Homo sapiens: one gene and its partners. The protein of the gene in region 1 interacts with the protein of each later gene in a biochemical or structural test. Each region holds a gene or a part of one and is shown on either strand. Other genes may lie near its edges.

Evidence for each region.
Region 2: the proteins of UBE2V2 (region 1) and MALT1 form a complex in vitro, tested with the Homo sapiens proteins (one study listed by BioGRID).
Region 3: the proteins of UBE2V2 (region 1) and HLTF form a complex in vitro, tested with the Homo sapiens proteins (2 studies listed by BioGRID).

Annotation. Positions count from the first base shown.
Region 1 is NC_000008.11:48,046,422-48,053,449, reverse strand, and holds part of UBE2V2 (ubiquitin-conjugating enzyme E2 variant 2), read right to left. Parts: intron 3,598-7,028; coding exon 3,472-3,597; intron 1-3,471. UniProt on the Homo sapiens protein: Has no ubiquitin ligase activity on its own. The UBE2V2/UBE2N heterodimer catalyzes the synthesis of non-canonical poly-ubiquitin chains that are linked through 'Lys-63'. This type of poly-ubiquitination does not lead to protein degradation by the proteasome.
Region 2 is NC_000018.10:58,744,448-58,751,475, reverse strand, and holds part of MALT1 (mucosa-associated lymphoid tissue lymphoma translocation protein 1), read right to left. Parts: coding exon 6,981-7,028; intron 5,811-6,980; coding exon 5,685-5,810; intron 4,072-5,684; coding exon 3,634-4,071; 3' UTR 1-3,633. UniProt on the Homo sapiens protein: Protease that enhances BCL10-induced activation: acts via formation of CBM complexes that channel adaptive and innate immune signaling downstream of CARD domain-containing proteins (CARD9, CARD11 and CARD14) to activate NF-kappa-B and MAP kinase p38 pathways which stimulate expression of genes encoding pro-inflammatory cytokines and chemokines.
Region 3 is NC_000003.12:149,076,523-149,083,550, forward strand, and holds part of HLTF (helicase-like transcription factor), read right to left. Parts: intron 1-7,028. UniProt on the Homo sapiens protein: Has both helicase and E3 ubiquitin ligase activities. Possesses intrinsic ATP-dependent nucleosome-remodeling activity; This activity may be required for transcriptional activation or repression of specific target promoters.

The DNA of each region.
Region 1 (7,028 bases):
TCCATCTCAAAAAAAAAAAAAAAAAAATTAAAAGATCTGTTACAAATAAGACAAATGTTAACATTTGACAAAGCTAGGTGAAGGACACATAGATGCTGGTTCTATCATTCTCTAAAACTTCTATTATGTTAGAAACATTTCTTTTAAAAACAAAAAAATAAATTTATAGTTAAGTGCAACAAAAGAATAAGAGTGACTCTAACAGAGCAATAGAAGGGACATAATTCAAGTTGGAACATCAATAAAGATACTAAAAAGTGGAATTTAGGCTGGGTGCGGTGGCTCATGCCTGTAATCCCAGCACTTTGGGAGGCCAACGCGGGTCAGGAGTCTGAGACCAGCCTGGCCAACATGGCAAACCCCCATCTGTATTAAATTAGCCAGGTGTTGTGGCACACACTTGTAGTCCCAGCTACTTGGGAGGCTAAGGCAGCAGAATCACTTAAACCCAGGAGATGGAGGTTGCAGTGAGCGAGATCATGCCACTGCACTCCAGCCTGAGTGACAGAGTGAGACTCTGTCTCAATAAAAAAGAAAGTGGAATTTACAGTGAGAAATGAAGGACCCATAGGAGTTAGCCAGACTGGGGAGGAAGGAGGAAGAACAGAAGTGCAAAGGTCTTGAGACCAAACGAAAGGCATGCAGGCCAGTGTGCACCTTGAGCACTCCCAGTGAGCCATGGCAAGAAGCATGCATGCTGAGGCTGATGCCCCTAAAGGAATCTGAAGTGCAGAAATGACACGACGCAATTTGTCTCTTAGGAGGATCCCTCTGGCTGCTAACTTTGGAAAGACTGGAAGGGATTTTAAAAAGTAGAATCAGAGACGTTGTTGCAAGAGTCCAGGAAATAAATGATGGCCAATATTCACTTGGTGGCAATGTAAATAGAAAAATAAGACCTAAATCCAGTCACATTTGGAACATAAAACTGACAAGGCTTAATGATAAATGGGTTGGGGGAAGGGAGGTAGAGAGGGAGGCAAAATATCAACTACTGGACCAAAAGCCCAAGAGATCAGATAAGCTTATTAGAGGTAGGTCTGAAATTTAATCTAAATTTCCTAGCTTCCATGACAATGTAGAACACACCATTAGTTACTTAATTTACAGAAGCTATAATGTAAAAACAAAACAGTAGTGGAGAAAACCAGATATGTCTAGTAGCAAAATCTAACAAAGGTCTTCTTCATAAAGGCAATGCTGTGTGTCACACAGGACATTCCCTAAATAATATCTTTTCTGTGTACTCATATGCTTTATAATCCTGCTCCTATCAAATTTCTTAAAAATAGATAAGTGTGCATAATTTCTAGAATAATCACTGAAAGAACACAAACAGAATGAAAGAAGTTGAGAACAACCATTCCAAAAGTAGGCAAGAAACATGTAGAAAAATAGAAACCACCAAATAAGATGATCTGTTTAAACCTGAACATGTCAGTAATTAAGAATATTAAATGTAAATGGACTAAATGCTCCCAGTAAATCACAAAGACTGACCAACTGAGGACTGTGAGGGCTGGAGAGACTCTCAGGTCCCAGCTCTGAGTTGGCACAGGGGTGGGGGGGTGTTAATGGCCCAGCAGGTGCAGGGCTAAGGTTTCCAATGACCTTTCCCAGCTTCTTCCTTTCTCAGGGTCATGCTTTATTTGGCCTGGTGCCTCCCTGCTGGATGCACCAGCCAATCTGGGGCCCCGCCTCAGACCTGCGTATTAGGTTGGGGTTGAGGGGCAGGGAGCTGGCTGTGAATCCAAGATTCAACTTGTTGCCAGAAGTACAGTTATATGAAGGGGAAATTGAGCAAATAAGTAAATGCACTGGGAAGCATGGGAGCCAGGTTTCTCAACTGGAAAGGAAGAATCATAGAACAAACCCTATAGTTTTAGAATAAAATTAGTGGGAGTTGTTAGTATAAACTCGTGATTTTTAACAGATGGTAAACAGATGAGAAGGAAAGAGAGAAGGAGAGAAGAAAGGAGGATGAATTTGTGTACATATGTGATACATTTGTAGTACAAAATACACTGGTAGAGAGAGGGAACGCAGGGATGGGATGAGAAATCAAGGATACTGAGGCCCTATTTCCTAAGATGGATGATACTCATTTTATGATGATGATATGTTATTTTGCTTCCTAAAATGTATTTTGTATGTGGCGTGCTCTCAACATGGCACCAAGAGAGCCTAGGCTTCAAAGACTTATCATGAACTTAACAATCTACTCATACTGGAAATTCAGCTGTTTCTACTAACTAACTTGTGTGGGTCAAGCAGGGCATGTCATTTTGTTTAAAGAGACAATGGGCTGGACACAGTGGCTCACGCCTGTAATCCCAGCACTTTGGGAGGCCAAGGTGGGCAGATCACTTGAGGTCAGGAGTTGAGTCCAGCCTGGCCAACATGACGAAACCCCATCTCTACCAAAAAATACAAAAATTAGATGGGCTTGGTGGCATGTGCCTTGTAGTCTCACATACTTGGGAGGCTGAAGTGGGAGAATCACTTGAGGCCACAGGAAGTGGGGGAGTACCACTGCACTACAGCCTGGGGGACAGAGTGAAACCCAAAAATAAATAGACAATGATGCTCAGCCATGACTGTTTCAACACAGACATATTTGCTCTTTAAAGAAAAAAACCCTTCATGAATATTCATCCTTTTCATGAACAGTCATCCTTTTAATCCCACCAAATGTACCTTAACCCTCAGAAAAGTAACATTCAAAGAGAAATAATGATCATCTCTTTTTTTTTTTTTTTTTGAGACGGAGTTTCGCTCTTTCACCCAGGCTGGAGTGCAGTGGCACAATCTCTACAAGCGTGAGCCACCATGCCCCGCCCAATAATGGTCATCTTTTTACCAAATAAAGATCAACTGAAATATGACTATTAAGGCAATTAAAACCCTAAGAAAACTTTTGGCCAGGCACAGTGGCTCATACCTGTAATCCCAGCACTTTGGGAGGCCGAGCCGGGCGGATCAACTAAGGTCAGGAGTTCGAGACCAGCCTGGCCATTGTGAAACCCCGTCTCTACAAAAATACAAAAATTAACTGGGCATGATGGCAGGTGCCTGTAATCCCAGCTACTCGGGAGGTTGAGGCAGGAGAATCACTTGAAGCCGGGAGGCAGAGGTTGCAGTGAGCCAAGATCGCACAATTGTACTCCAGCCTGGGTGACAGAGTGAGACTCTGTTTCAAAAAAAAAAGAAAAGAAAAAAAAAGTTTTAACCACCACATGCATCTATTCTAGGCAAGTACATTAAGGTTTTTAAGGATGGCCTAATTTATATTAATAAAAGAAAAACAACATAATGCAACCTTCTTTAGACTTTTGGCTTAACAAAGGTCCTCTTTTAAAAACTTTCTCCTAACTACATATTAATATCTTACATATATTATGGTGTGTGTACGTATAATATATAACTCTATACATTATGTTATATAAAACCAAAATGACTATATTAACTTACCATCCCACTGGAATTATTTATTCCGTTCATATTAATTTTTGTTACAAATCTAACTGACGGAGGAGCTTCTGGGTATTTAGGTCCACATTCTACTTTCAGGCTATATATTCTGTTTTCATAATTTGTCTGGAAGGCAAAAAACAAAAAGATAATCAAAATAACAATACCTAAAATATTAATGTCTAAGTGCTAAAAAAAAAAAAGGGAAAGTACAATATGAATGTACGTAAGACAGTGTTTATGATTAAGAATTTATTTTTCTACATTCAAATTTATTTCACCTATATGGTGAGAAAAAATGCAATAAGCATACTTAAAAATTGAGATTTTACAAAATTAATTCCATGAGATTTTACAAAATTAATTCTACAAAGTATTATCAATATGATCCCAAGTTGCTTTTGTGATAAAAATGATGCCTGTAACAAATTAGAACGAAGAAGGAAAAACGAAAAAGCAAACCACTTAAATTTAGATTTTGCTAAAAAGTTTACATTGTAGAGGGAGGGGCTACTTGAGACTTGTGTTAAACATATATGAAGGTTTCTGTTTTACAGAACAGTTCTGCTTATTCCTATTGTCCCAGAATTGACTATTAACAGTGCCTCCTTTCATTCTCAAAAGGGTCTTGTTGGATAACAAATTATATGATTATCCTACTAAATATGGCAATCAATAACTTCTAGCAAAAGAGAAAACCCCATATTATACTATTTTGCAGCAATAAAACATAATTATTTTATGTCCCCTGTTAGTTATACTTACGTTGCCACTTCATTAATTTTGAGGTTCATTAAATCCCATTATCTGAATTCAGAGATACAATGGCAAACTTTATGTTTACACATCATTTTCAAATAGGTATCAAACTTAAAGCTTCTAGATTATCCAGGGCTTATTTTCATGCCTATAAATTAACTCTTCTTTCTGCTATGGCTTTTGTTCACTCTGTTAACTTATTAGTGTACCATTAAAACAGCAAAGTAAAAAATAAATGAATCCTCACCTTGACTCAAGAGATTAAAAAGAAAAAAAAATTGTTTTAAAGAGAATTATAATTATTGAAACTTTAAATTTTCTAAATTATAATTAAAATAACATAAAAATATATACATAAATAAATGAAAGTGAAAAATTTAATATCTGCTGGCTGCTGTATAAGACCAGAGAGGGAGGAAGCTAACCAACCATCTACAGATCTCACCTACTCAAACTGATCCCATCCCCATAAACAAGAGCTATCCAAATGGAGGTCAGATTTGCAGTATTAAACTACTCTAATGTAAAACCTATGCAACAATGTTATATGTATGTTATTAAATATTTCAATACTTTAAGAAAAAAAGAGCTATATAAAACTCATCTGAGATTAATAGCAAGCAAATATTAATAATATCCCCAGCACTTTCAATATATAAAAATGACTAAAATCAGATAGATCTCATGATTATCTTGGCTGTGATTCTCCAATCTGGATGCATATCAGACTCCCCTATGATACAGCAATTCTATTCCTAGGCATTTACCCAAGCGAAATGGAAACAAACACATGTTCACAAAAAGACTTCTACAAGAATGCCCATAGCAGCTTTATTTGTAAAAGCAAGAAAGTAGATTAAATCCAAATGTCCATAAAAAGAAGTGATAAACACATTGTGGTATATCCATACAGTAAAATACTATTCAACAATAAAAAGAAACACACTCCTACTACATGAGATAACACAACTGAATTGCTCAGACTTCATGCTGAGTAAAGAACCGTAAGTGTACACACTACATGACCCTACTTACCAAAGCTCTACAACACGCAAATCTCTCAGGTGTGGGAAAGCGCAAAGGGAGCTTTCTGGAATGACAGGAATGTTCTGTATCTCAGTAGGGGTAACAAGCTACATTTGTCAAACTCATGGCACATCTGTGCATTTCACTACATGTAAATTCTACCTCAATTCCTTTTGTTTAAAAAAAAAAAAAAAAAAACCCAAAGCTCTTTTCTGAAAGATTTTATGTAAACAAAAAAAAATTTAATCCCAAAGCTAGCCTATTAATCTAATCCAATTCTTACAGTAAATATCACCCTAACTTCTGACACCTTTGATTTTATCCCCTCTAAATTTTAAATTAACAGGCTGGGTGTGGTGGCTCATGCCTGTAATCCCAGCCCTTTGGGAGGCCAAAGGCGGGCAGACTGCCTGAGGTCAGGAGTTCGAGACCAGCCTGGCCAACATGGTGAAACCCCGTCTCTATTAAAAATACAAAAATTGGTAGCACACGCCTGTAATCCCAGCTAGTCGGGAGGCTGAGGCAGGAGAATCACCTGAACTCGGGAGGTGGCAACTGCAGTGAGCTGAGATCACGCCACTGCACTCCAGCCTGGGTGGCAAAGCAAGACTGTCTCAAAAAAAAAAAAAATTTTAATTAACAGTCAAGTTTTTCTGTTATCTAATAAAAAGCAAGAGCAAAAAAAAGAGGAGAAAAACAAACTAATATTTACTAAGTCAAGTACTCAGGTATTCTCCTATTATCTAATCATTATTTCACTTAATTCTCACACTGTTTCTATTTTAAAGATGGGGACAGTACCTTCATTAAATATGAGAAAACTTGAAAAAGTACTAAACTCTAGTGACAACAAATATTGCTTCAGAAAACTGAACACAAAAACATAGAAAAACAAAACTGCTAATCATATAAATCCAAATAAATACTAGAACAACATAAAAAATGAGGGATCTGGCTGGACATGGTGGCTCACACCTGTAATCCTAACACTTTGGGAGGCCGAAGGGAGTGGATCACCTGAGGTTGGGAGTTCGAGACCAGCTTGACCAACATGGAGAAACCCCATCTCTACTAAAAATACAAAATTAGCCGGGCATGGTGTCGCATGCCTGTAATCCCAGCTACTCAGGAGCCTGAGGCAGGAGAATCACTTGAACCTGGGAGGCAGAGGTTGCGGTGAGCCCGAGATAGTGTCACTGAACTCCAGCCTGGGCAACAAGAGCAAAGCTCCATCTCAAAAAAAAAAAAAAAGAGGGACCTTAGTCAATAAAGTACAAAAAATAAAAAACAACTGGCCAGGCACAGTGGTTCACGCCTATAATCCTAGCACTTTGGGAGGCCACGGCAGGTGGGCCATTTGAGCCCAGGAGTTTGAGACCCGTCTGGGCAACACAGTGAGACCCCCATCTCTACACACACACACACACAAATTAGCCAGGTATGGTGGTGTACCCCTATAGTCCCAGCTACTCAGAAGGCTAAGGTGGGAGGATTGTTTGAGCCCAGGGGGTCCAGGCTGTGAGGTGTGATCGGGCCACTACACTCCAGCCTGGTTGACAGAGTGAGACTATCTCAAAATAAAATAAAATAAAAATAAAAAACAACGAACCATGTAACATGTTAAAAGTCTTCCTCCTCTCAACCGGGCACGGCGGCTCACGCCTGTAATCCTAGCACTTTGCGAAGGCCGAGGTGGGCGGATCATCTGAGGTCGGGAGTCTGAGACCAGCCTGAGCAACATGGAGAAACCCTGTCCCCACTAAAAATACAAA
Region 2 (7,028 bases), on another chromosome or scaffold:
TGCTGCAGTGAGCTGAGACTATGTCGCTGCACTCCAGCCTGGGCGACAGAGCCAGGACTCTGTCTTAAAAAAAAAAAAATCAAATATACAGAAGAGTATAAAGGGGAAGTACGATTCTCCTGCCTCAGCCTCCCTAGTAGCTGGGATTACAGGTGTGTGCCACCATGCCCAGCTAATTTTTTTGTATTTTTAATAGAGACAGGGTTTTGCCATCTTGGTCAAGCTGGTCTTGAACTCCTGGGCTCAAGTGATCCGCCTTCATTGGCCTCCCAAAGTGCTGAGATTATAGGCGTGAGCCACCACACCCATCCTAAAACTAAAATTTTATGTTCAGTTCCTCACACTAGCTATTATTTCAACTGCTCAACAACCCCATGAGGCTAAAGGCTATCACACTGGGAGTGCGGATACCAAGCATCCCATCATCACAGCAAGTTCACTGGACAGTGCTGCTCGGTGGTAACCACAGCTGAGCACCTGCATGTTTGTTTGTTTTTTTATCAGATACATGATTTTTCAAAAATTTTTCTCCCATTCTGAGGGTTAACTTCACTTTCTTAATGGTGTCCTTTAAGGCGCTAAAGTTAATTTTGATGAAGTCCCATTTATCTACTGTTTGCCTTTGTTGCTTGTGCTTTTGGTATTATGTCTAAGAAACCATTCCTAAGCCCAACATCACAAAGATTTACTTCTGTTTTCTTCTAAGAGTTTAAACTCTTATATTGAGGTCTATGATCCATTTTGAGTTAGAATTTGTAATGTGGTAGGAAGGTAGGGATCCTTTTGCTGTGCACGTAGCTACCAGTTAGTTGTCCCAGCACCGTTTGTTGAAAAGACCACTCCTTCTCTATTGATGGTATTGGCATCCTTGTTGAAAACAAGTTGACCAGAAATGTATGGGTTTATTTCTGGATGTTCAGTTCCATTCCTCTGATCGATATGTCTATCCATATGCCTACACTGTCTTATTGTAGCTTGGTAGCACTTTTTGAAATTGGTACGTCTTCCAACTTTGTTCTTTTCCAAGGTTTTTTGGCTATTCTGGGTCCCCTGCGTTTCCCTACCAATTTTACCAGTTTGTCAATTTCTGCAAAAAATACAGCTAGGATTTTGATAGGAATTGTTGAATATGTAGACTAATTTGGGCAGCATTGCCATCTTACCAATATTCAGTCTTCCAATCCATGAACATGGATGTCTTTCCATTTATCTGGATCTTAATTTCTTTAAACGTGTTGGAGTTTTATTCTTGATGCTACTGTATATAGGATTTCTTTATTCTCATTTTCAGAATGTTTGCTGTTAGTAGAGAAATAAAACTGATCTTGTATCCTGCAACCTGTTGAACTCATTTATTACTTTTTATGGATTCTTTAGCATTTTCTATATACAACTATGTATCAACTGTGAATACATATAGTTTCACTTCTTTTGCAGTATAAACCTCTTTTCTTTATTAGCTTATTTGATTTTTAGATGTTGAACAAACCTTGAATTCCTAACCTAACTGCTGTGGCTAGAACTTCAAGTACAATGCTGAATAGAAGTAGTGCCGAGTGAACATCCTTGTCCTTCTTCCCAATCTTAAGGGGAAAACATTCAGCCTTCAGTCTATCACCATGAAGTATAATGTTAGGTGTGGGCTTTTCATAGATGTTATATTTATCATATCTAGGAAGATTCCTTTTATTCCTAAGTTTGTTGAGTGTTTTTATGAAAGAGTTTTGGATTTTATCAAATGCTGTAATAAGACAATCTGTGTGGGTTTTGTGCTTTATTAAATATGGTACAGTTGATCCTCATTATTCAAGGTTATGTATTTGTGAATTTACCAACTTGCTAAAATTTATAACCCTCAAATTGATATCCGTGGCACTTTTGCAGTCATTTGTGGATATGTGTAAATGGGTGAAAAATTTGAGTCACCCAGTACACATGTTCCCAGCTGAGGCTGAACAAGATGATGCTCTGCCTTCCTGCTTCAGTCTCATAGAGAAATGACTGGAGGGTGGAAATGGCAGGGGCAATTCTGTGTAGTACAAGAAGCTCTGGCTCCGGGGCCAGCTGGATGGGGTTTGAATTTCAGCTCTGACACCTGTTAGGGGGGTGCCTCAGGCATGTCACTTAACACTTCTGATACCTCACTTTCACTTCTGTAAAATAAGGTAGAATTTGCTAGGATGAATTAAGAATTCAAGCTCATAATGTGTGTGAGATAAACATATGTATACACACATATACACAAATACACTTTCTCCTAAAAGCAGTTGTTCCATATTTAATTCAGTGTTTATGGGAGAATATTCTGTAGAACATAATTACTGTGAATAATGAGAACTGACTGTATATTAGCTTATTTGATTTTTAGATGTTGAACCAACCTTGAATTCCTGGGATAAATTCCACTTGGTCATGATATAGAATCCTTTTTATAGGTTGCTGGATTCAGTTTGCTAATATTTTTGTTAATGATTTTTGTGTTTGTATTAATAAGGAATATTGGCTTATAGTTTTCTTGTGATGTCTAGTCTAGTATCAGGGTAATACTGACCTAGAGTAAGTTGGGAAGTGTTCTTTCCTCTCCTACTTTTAGAAACAGTGTGCAAAAAATTAGTGCTAATTTTAATGTTTGGCAGAATTCAACAATGCAGCCATCTAGGCCTGGGATTTTCTTTGTGAGACTTTTAAAATTACTAATTCAGTATTTTTCCTTGTTAATGCCAATTGCATTTTTAACCAACTTTTAGGTAGAGCCAAAGATAAGAGTATTATCTCATTAGGCCAGTGAAATTCAAGAAGAAAATACATATTATCAAGGAAGATGCTAAATATTTGGGAAATTCTGATAGGCAGCTATGAAAATTATCCATTATATCTTGATTCTTAACCTCTATCTAGCTTTAACAAACATTTTATCACTTCTCATGTGGTTTCATAATCTTATGAACAAGAAATTTCAGCCTGTTCTATAACAGATTTATATACAAACCTCTTAACTAAAACTTGCAGTGAAGTCCTTATAATCAAAAACTAAAGTTTGTACATTCCTTGAGATAATACACAGATATGTATCTGTATATATTTATATATATATAAATATATTTCACTCTATCTACAAACATAACACTTATCTCAGAACCTGTCAGGAAGGCAGTTGTGTAGTGGAAAAAATACTGGAATAGATTTCTGGAGGTCTCAGTTCTGGTGCCAGCTCTAACTTAGATGCCTTTCTGTGTTTCTTCCATGGATAAAATTAGGTTATGCCTGGTGATCGGCAAGGTTCTTTCTGGTGTTAAAAATACAATGACTTATTCTACAATAATGCCATTCCCATTGCTCTTACTTCAGAGTGGTCACAATGAAAATATTTTGTTATATACATATAAACATACACACCTCCATACTTCATTTGTATAGAACTATTCAACCAATTCACAAAATCTTAGAAAGAGGAAGTCTGTAATTAAATAATGTAATTTCAACATCTCAAAGTCCTGAAGTTTGCTATGAAACAGTTACTACTATTCTTTCTCTACATATACAAATTTGCCTTTTCACAATGTCTCACTTTATGTAAGTGCAGTACTATTTCACAGGCATCTAAAATTATGCTAACTTTCAAAAACAAGGAGGTCATTTTTCAGAAATTCTGAGCCTGTCAGAGAAACTAAATGGTATTTCATCAGTTGTCTCTACTGGCACATTACTTCTACTAAAATGACATGAAGCATGGTGAGCGAAACTTGAAATAAATGCATCTGGAGTCCGGCTGCAATGACAGCTATCTGCTGGTGTAACATTACTTGGATTACCAGGATGTGAATGGTAAACACCATGGAATGGGTCTTGCAATGAGTGATAATGCCCTGCTCCTCCTGAGGTGGCTGCAGAACTCTGGTAAGGACCATTAGACATAAGACAAGTTTGAAAGCAAGTCTTCCTTCCCAAACCTCGATGCATGTCTAATTTAGCAATGAGAGGTTTCCCAACATTCACTTCCTGCTTGTCCTCTACAGTATCTTCCAATCCTGAGTACTGATATGATAAACATACTGTGAAGACTAGATGTTCCTGAAAAGGAAAAAAATCTGGTTTATTATTGGCATCAACAGTGAATATATATCAATCTGAAAATATTCACACATACACACCCCCACCCCCAAAAATCCACTCACTCTCCTTTCCCAGGTTCCAAATCCTCAAGGCATCCTTTATATCTCCCTGAAACTGAGAAACGCCAGCTATCATTATCTTCCTTTTCCTTCATGCAATACTTACAACCCATTTAGAATTTCTAGTTCTTACTACTGTTAGTAGTCAAAGTCAAAGAGATCTTTCTTACACTCTAGATGAACAGGGAAAACATTTTCCAAGCAGTGCAGCTTAGGAAACTTACCCTTCCCTATTATTAGAGATGGGGTATTAACTTTTAATTAAAAAATGATCTGGGCCCGGCGTGGTGGCTCACGCCTATAATCCCAGCACTTTGGGAGGATGACGCAGATGGATCACTTGAAGTTAGGAGTTCAAGACCAGTCTGGCCAACGTGGTGAAACCTGTCTCTACTAAAAATACAAAAAATTAACTGGGCATGGTGGTGTGCGCCTGTAGTCCTGGCTACTCGGGAGGCTGAGGCACAAGAATCACTTGAGTCTGGGAGGTGGAGGTTGCAGTGAGCTGAGATCGCGCCACTGCATTCCAACCTAGGCGACAGAGAGAGACACCATCTCAAAACAAAAAAAAAAACCTGGTTTTATACCAGTTTTATAAAAAAAGCTTAAGCTGTTTTTAAAATATTATAGTAATCCATAATCGTAGGTGGAAAATATAACTGAATCAGATAATGGGCTAACTTTTTAAGAGAAGAAAGGATTTTAAGTAGATGAGCTCCGAACAGGATGACAACAGGTTTATGTGTGTAATTCTCAATCATGCCCATTCCATTCCCTGAGTTTTAGCTGATACATTCTATGGTCATGTAGTTGTGAACAAATTAAAAGCTTTCATTAGAACACTCAATGTGCAGAACTAGCTTCTCATTTGTAAGTCAACTAGAAATAAAAAAATGGAAAAAAAATTCTAATTTGCTATATGTCTAGTCATAGAACTAGGAAATGATTACTTGAAAATCTGAACATATTTAAAAGTAGAATATGGAGCTGGGAGTGGAAGCTCACACCTGTACTCCGAGTGCTTTGGGAGACCAAGAAGGGAGGATTCTTGAGGCCAGGAGTTTGAGATTGGCCTGGGCAATATAGTGAGATCCCTTCTCCACAAAAAGTTTTAAAAAATTAGCTGGGTGTAGTGGCATGTGCCTGTAGACTCAGATACTTGGGAAGCTGAGGTGGCAGGATCATATGCACTGAGGAGTTTGAGGTTATAGTAGGTCATGTTCATGCCACTGCACTCCAGCCTGGGTGACAGAGTTAAGACTCTGTCTCTAAAAAAAGAAAAAAGAATATACTCTAATGTTACTAATTTTTTAGCATTCTGGAGGGTAAGCACACATAAAGTCCTCTGGTCACCATCGGAAACAGAATATAAAAAGGGTCACTGATAGGACCTTCTGTAGACTGGTTATCTCTACTTTAATAATAAGGCAGCATATCTATGGTCTATGCCAAAATAAGTTTCCAGTTTCATAAAGTTTTCCATTAGTAGCTATAAACAGAAAAGGTAGTAACCTTTAATTTTTGCAGTGAACTGAGTCTGGTATAGAGGCAATGCTTGGGAAGATCCTTTGATACCAAGTAGCTGCCAGTTTCTTCAGGTGTGCCTTTATTTGCATCTTTTGGATCAATATCTAGATCCTGTAAAAAAAAAAATTAGGGACTGTTAATAATGAAATCAATGAAAGCCACAATATAATCTAGTACATAAGACATCTTAACTGATACTATCCTCTCGTGAATTCTGGCCTCTCGTGAATTTTGGTAATCCCAAAATTATCCAGGACTAAACAATGAAAACAACAATCTATGGTTATAATAGGAATTCTCAATTCTGTACTAAGCCATCTAAAAAGTAAAGTGAGCTCTGAAAGAGCTTCCTTTCAAATGATTCCTAGAAATGCTTCTTGAGCTACTCAAGTTTCCTCTTAAGCAGAGAGAGCCCCATTAGTGTTTGACTCCTGGATTCTCTCCTCTTAATCATCACTTTTGGGAAGGTGCAGGGAAATTTATATGATTAGAATATTTAAGAAGGATAAATAAACAGCCTTTTCCTTTTTCTTCTTTTAGAGCCAACCCAATGGCCAAGAGTAAGGGTTCTGCTGCTCCAGTGAGAAGCCCACAGGCCCCCAGCTTGCTCAGTACCTCAGGAAGCCTATCTGGGCTCCGTACTGCTGAGACTGGAGGTGTGGGGTGGCCACTCAATTCTGGGGTTTGGTGCTAGACCATTTACTCTGACATGAAGCAATATCCTCCACAAAGCCTCTATCAGTAATCAAAGTGATATTTTGGGTTTCTGCTTGTCTTACTCCTTGCTTGCTTCTCAGTTTGTCACACTCATGTAGGAAAGAGGGGTACTATTTACTGGCTTCTTTAGACCAACGTAAAATAACTATCAAACCTAAATGTTTGAAAAGAGCAGAACTAGATTTCTATTATTCCAGCATATGACCATACCTTAACAAGACTTAAAAACTACTGTTTCCAATATAAGTTATAACTGTTTAAAAGGAAATTATTCTTGACATATTTATAGCACATTTTATTCCTTCACATTGGCTCTCGTGTTTAGGATATAAGAAATTAGAGGCATCCTTCCTGAGTGAACTTTAGACATTTCTAAATCTCATAAACTTAAGGTATTTTGGCAATTAGTAAATATTATGATCAGTGTTACTAAACTATAAATATATACACATATATAAATATATATATTTCCTTTATATTTACCATCAACTTTAAGTTTTAAAAAATTTAGTCTTTAATAAGTGAGAATATATCACTGTATTTTAAATAAAAGAAGAGACTCACAAGTGGAAAATCAGTAACGTAGGCATCACACATTATTATCTCCGGTGG
Region 3 (7,028 bases), on another chromosome or scaffold:
AGGTAGCAGAGCTAGGATCTGAACCCACACAGGGTGGTTCCTGAGCCTCAATTCTCCAGAATATAAAAGTCAGGGAATAAGGCATTTATAAGTCAGGATGGAACTAGGTAAGAAAAATATATCCAGCCTTCAACTCATGCCATTCTGATTCTACTTTATTAAAAACTGTATGATTTAACTTAAATATTATGATGTATATTTTTAAAAACTGAAGGAGGGTAACACAATAAAGAATGGTAGAATGAGGACTTTCAAAAATTCCTCAATAAAGGCAACAAAAAAACTAGATAAATTATTTGTCAGAATCAAATGTTTCAGAACACTGAGAACTAAATCAAAGGCTTGCAGAAATCTGGGTAACATTTATTCAAGAATAAAAAGAATAAACAGCTGAATATCAGTACTTCAGTCCCATCCCCAGCAATCCTGTAGCCTTTAAAAATAGCTCACGGCCAGGCACAGTAGCTCACGCCCCCAGCACTTTGGGAGGCCGAGGTGGGAAGATCACGAGGTCAAGAGATCAAGACCATCCTAGCCAACATGGTGAGACCCCCGTCTCTACTAAAAATACAAAAATTAGCTGGGTGTGGTGGCACGCGCCTGTAGTCCTAGCTACTCGGGAGGCTGAGGCAGGAGAACCACTTGAACCCGGCAGGCAGAGGTTGCAGTGAGCCAAGATAGTGCCCCTGCACTCCAGCCTGGTGACAGAGCGAGACTTCATCTCAAAATAAATAAATAAATAAATAAATAAATAAATAAATAAATAAATAAAAATAATAGCTTGTTGGGATCCTAGGTAAAGCCTGGCAGTCACCAGAAAAAAAGAGAATGGAGTTACAGTTCTTTCAGAGATTCATTCCCAAAGAACTGTTATTCTCCTGAAGTTCCCCGGAAGACCCCACTTGCAAGGCTGACTGTATTTAACCTCTGAGCTCACCAAGTACAAAAAAACCTCCCTTGGGCGGATGTTTGTCAAAACAATTTTACAGGAAAGTGTTTTAACTTCATGGCTACCTGAGGCAGTGGATAACAGCTGAAGCAAAAAAACAAAAAGGCTTATAAAGAAGAGCTAGGGAATGAGATGTCTGTGAGGGCTTTGAAAAGCTCCAGTGTATTTCTGGATATCTAGAAGGCCGTAAGCAAGCACAGGGCTGGTATGCATGACCAGGGCTGTGCACATTCTCAAGAAAGACCTGAGAAGGCCCTAAACGCTCACCTTTGCCTGAACTTGAGCATTTAAACAAGCCAGAAGTGAAAGCTAAAGCAGAGTTGTCAGGGGCCTTAGAGTGTTGAAGGAATGCCCTAACATACAGAAGTTCTCAGCAAAGAATGTACGATTTATTAGTTCCAGCACAATCATCAGCTGACCGCTAAGCTAACCAAGTACAGACTTCAGTGACCACACACGATAAAGGATAGACATCACAGAATTAATTCAGGAAAGTCACTAACAAACACACACTAATTACAAAACTCAGCAACAAACCACCCTAGAAGCCTAACAAACACACACTAATTACAAAACTCAGCAACAACAAACCACCCTGATTTCCAGAGCTGCCACATTATTTAAAATGTCAATTTTTCAAGAAAAAAAGTACAAGACATGCAAAAAAAATAAGAAAGTATGGTCTATACACAGGGAAAAAAAGCAATCAATGTCAACTGTCCCCAAGAAAGTATAGATGTTTGACATAGTAGAAAAAGAATTTAAGTCAGTTATTTTAAATATGTTCAAAGGGGCTGGGCATGGTGGCTCACACTTGTAATCCCAGCACTTTAGGAGGCTGAAGTGTGAGGATCTCTTGAGGCCAGGAATTTGAGACCAGCCTGGGAAACATAGCAAGACCCCATTTCTACAAAATAAAAATAGAAAAATTAGCCAGGTATGGTGGTACATGCCTGTAGTCCCAGCTATTCAGGAGTCTGAGGTGGGAGGACTGCTTGAATGCAGGAGTTCAAGGTTACAGTGAGCTATGATCACGCCACTGCACTCCAGCCTGGGTAATAGAGCAAGAACCTATCTCTAAAAAATTAAAAAGTTCAAAGACCTGGCCGGGCACAGTGGCTCACGCCTGTAATCCCAGCACTTTGGGAGGCCGAGGTGGGCGGATCACGAGGTCAGGAGATCGAGACCATCCTGGCTAACACAGTGAAACCCCGTCTCTACTAAAAATACAAAAAATTAGCCGGGCGAGGTGGCGGGTGCCTGTAGTCCCAGTTACTCGGGAAGCTGACACAGGAGAATGATGTGAACCTGGGAGGCAGAGCTTGCAGTGAGCCGAGATCGTGCCACTGCACTCCAGCCTGGGCGACAAAGCAAGACTCCGTCTCAAAAAAAAAAAAAAATAAGTTCAAAGACCTAAAGCAAATCATTTCTTTCGACATGAAAACGCATGTCTAAAAGCATGGAGACGATGTCTCACCAAACAGCAATTCTAGAGTCAAAAGGTACAATAACTGAAGAAAAAATTCACCAGAGAGACTCAACAGCAAATTTGAGCAGGCATAAGAAAAATCAGCGAAGCTGAAGATAGGTCAATTGAGATTATACAATCTAAGGAACAAAAAAATGACACACAACAGAGCCTCAGAAACTTGTAATATCAAGCATACCAACACACATACATAAGAGTACCATAAGGAGAAAAGAGAAAGGGGCAGAAAAAATATTTAAAGAAATAACAGCCAAAACCTTCCCAATTCGATGGAAACCACTACTCTACACATATAAGAAGCTCAACAACTCCAACTAAAATAAACTCAAAGAGATCCACACCTGGTCACATCATAATCAAACTGTCAAAAGAAGTTTGAGACCAGCCTGGGCAAAAGGGTAACGACAGTTTCTAAAAAAAAAAAAAAAAAAAAAAAAAAAAAAAAAAAAAAATTATTTAAAAAAATAAAAATTTTTAAGTATAATTTTTTGTAATTTTTGTCCTATCTCATTAAAAAGTATATAATTATAAATCTTTGTTGATAGGTATACTACATATATAAAGATATAACTTGGATAACAGCACAAAGGAAGGCAATAGGATGGAGCTGTGAGCAAAGGTTTTTTTGGGGTTTTCTTTGTTGTTGTTTTTTTGAGACAGAGTCTTGCTGTCACCAGGCTGGAGTACAGTCGCACAATCTCGGCTCACTGCAACCTCTGACTCCCTAGTTCATGCGATTCTCCTGCCTCAGCCTCCCAAGTAGCTGGGACTACAGGCAGGTGCCACCATGCCCAGCTAATTTTTGTATTTTTAGTAGAGATGGGGTTTCACCATGTTGGCCAGGATGGTCTCAATCTCCTAACCTCGTGATCCACTCACCTTGGCCTCCCAAAGCGCTGGGATTACAGGCGTGAGCCACCATGCCCCATGCCCAGCCACAAAGTTTTTTATATACTGTTAAGTTGGCACTAATCCAAACTAGGTTCTTATAAATTAAGTTGTTAATTGTAATCCCTAAAGCAATCATAAGTAACTCAAAATATATAGTAAAAGAAACAAGGGAATTAAAATAGTACACTAAAAAAAAAAATCTATTTAACATAAAAATGAGTATTGGAGGCCAGACCCAAATGCCACATATTGTATCATTTCATTTACGTGAAATGTCAAGAGGAGGTAAATCCATATACACAGGAAGAAGACTGATTCATGGTTGCCAGGGACTGAGGGGTAGAGATAATGGGAGTGACTACAAATGGGAATGAGGTTTCTTTTTGGAGTAATGAAAATGTTTTGGAACTAGATTGTAGGGATGGTTGCACAACCTTGTGAGTATTCTAAAAACTACTCAACTGTACACTTTAAAATGGTAAATTTTATAATAAATGTATCTCAATTTTAAAAAATTCCTTGAAAATATACAAGAAAGCTGCTTCAAACCTCTCCCAGCATGTCTACTGACTCAAGAGATTACAGCCAGAACTAAACAGAGTATTAGACAGATATTCATCTCTAGACTTTTAGAGATATTATCTATGAGGCAGAGCTATGTTCTCTCCCAGTCGCCACCCCTCTGCCACTGCCTACAGGATGATCTTTTTTAAACCGGATTATGCAAATCCTAGAAAATACATAACCAAAATAAAAAAGCAGGGCACAAAACTAACAATTTTTGAGCATTTCATCTCAAGGTATTACATAATTGTAATTTATCATAATAAGCTATCATTAATTACAATTAGTTAACTGTCGTTACAAATAAGTAATTACTAGAATTTTAAATAAAATATATATGAGCCAAAATATTGGAGACTATAAAAACAAAAACATGGTCCCAGCAGCAAGAAAAAACAGGACATATAAAAAAACAAAAAGACAAAGACAAGAATAACAAAAGGAATGAGAATTAATCATAACAGTATAGTCATACCCCGCATAACAACATTTCAGCAATGACAGACCACATGCATTATGCAACAGTTGTTCCACAAGATTATAATGGGGCTGCCCTATAGAAGTGTACCATTTTTCATATTTTATACAATATTTTTACTGTACTTTTTTCATGTTATATATGCTTAAATACACAAATGTGTTACAATTGCCCACAGTATTCAGTAAAGTAACATCTTGTTCACTCTGTTTCCACAAAGAAATCACCTAACACTTTTCTCAGAAAGTATCTTCATTGTTAAGCAACACATAACTGTATTTTAAAATAGAAAAAGAAATAAACCACATTATAAAATAAAGCCTTTGATGGGTCAAAAAATAAACTTAACCATATGCTTATTGAAAACACACTAAAAAAAAAAAAACAAAAAATAAAAATGAAATAAGAATAAGAAAACACCAGAGTTAAAAATAAAGAATGCTACTACATAACAAAACGTGGTGGCTAAAGGCAACGCAATACTTAACACGTTTAAAGATTAAAAGATTAAATGACTCAAATTAAGTGCTCAAATCGCAAGTCCAACAGAAATGAAAAGAAAATAAATCTAAGTAGAAAAACCGAATGTAAGAGTAATTATTAAGCCAAGAAACACAATCATTAAGAAAAATTCAAGAGAGCCTGCCTTGAAAAGAAATAATGTCATAGCTAATCAATAAAAAAGACACGAATGTGTAACACAAAGAATAAAAACAGGAATATAATCACCTTTTTAAAAAAGTTTTTAAAAAGTTTAATGGAGCCAATAAGGCATATAAAATTATGTTCTGGCAGACATTAAAAAAATGGCACATTTTATCAAAATTTGACAATTCAGAGTAAAGGGTACTGAAATTTAAGGTTCAGAGCACCAACTTAAAACAACCAAAAAAATGGTTATTCAACTTGGAAAGAGTAACTAGAACCAAGGCATAAAAGGGAGTTTAAGTATGTGTTCCTCCAATTCAAAATCCTTCAGGAATAGGAGTTCTGGCCACTTGTGAGCAACACATCATACCACCAAACCCCAATTCCAGAAAATTACAGTTACAATTTTATAAGGATAAATGATTACTATGCACAATTCTATGGGAATAAGTTTGAATATCTAAATAAAATGGATGCTTTTCTTCAAAAATGTAACTAACCAAAATAGACCAAAGAAGTACCTAAATTATGCTGAGTGAAAAACGCCAGACTTAAAATAGTACATACTGTAGAATTCAATGTATATGAAGTTCTAGAATAGGCAAAACTTATTTATAGTGATAGAAGACTTGTGTGGCCGGGCGCAGTGGCTCACACCTGTAATCCCAGCACTTTGGGAGGCCGAGGCGGGCGGATCACGAGGTCAGGAGATACAGACCATCCTGGCTAACACGGTGAAACCCCGTCTCTACCAAAAATACAAAAAAATTAGCCGGGCATGGTGGCAGGCGCCTGTAGTCCCAGCTACTTGGGAGGCTGAGGCAGGAGAATGGCATGAACTTGGGAGGCGGAGCTTGCAATGAGCCGAGATCCCGCCACTGCGCTCCAGCCTGAGAAACAGAGCGAGACTCCGTCTCAAAAAAAACAAAAAAAAAGAAAAGAAATGAGACTCGTGGCTGCCTAGGGCAGGAACAGGGAAAAATGAATGCAATAGGATACAAGATACTTTGAGGGAGACGGATACAATCTGTATCTTGATTGGGGTAGTAGTTATCAGGTATACATCTTTGTCAAAACACTAGGATCATACATTTAAAATATGTACATTTTATCATACGTAAACCACATCTCAATAAAGTAGAAAAAAAATTAAAATAACAAGTATGCAAAGATAGTATCTCAATTTTTATTATTTTTATAATAGTGATTAACTCAAAAATGTCCATCAACAAGGAAATTATAAGTCCAATATAGATGATATTCCTAATCACATTAGGCATAATATGATCTCATTTTTATTAATACATAATATGATTCCAATTTACATGCACATGCTCACAGAAACAAGTGTAGAAGATAAGTTATGGTTCTGGATGATAGACTTCAGAAGATTTAATGCCTTTTTAGCCATTTAAAAATAATGAACGTGGCTGGGCGCGGTGGCTCATGCCTGTAATCCCAGCACTTTGGAAGGCCGAGGTGAGTGGATCACCTGAGGTCAGGGGTTCAAGACCAGCCTGACCAACATGGCAAAACCTCATCTCTCCTAAATACAAAAAATTAGCTGGGCATGATGGCGCATGCCTGTAATCCCAGCTACTTAGGAGGCTGTTGCAGGAGAACCGCTTGAACCTGGGAGGCGGAGGTTGCAGTGAGCCAAGATTGCACCATTGCACTCCAGCCTGGGCAATGCAAGCAAGACTCCGTTTCAAAAAAAAAACAAAAACAAATAAAAGAACATGCATTAATTATAAAATAAATGATATCTCAACATAGTGTTCCTGGAAAAAAATAAAATTTAAAGTATATATATTTGGCAAAATAAGAAAACTGATGATTACTTTTTATCAACACACACTAGAGTTTACCGAAGTCATAGAGATTATTCTCAGATCAAAAATACTGATTGTTCTAAGATCAATAACTACCATAATCTAGTATTTCATGGTGGTATAAAATAATTATCGAAAGCAATGTAAGTTTTGAAAAATTAGCACAAATCTGAAACA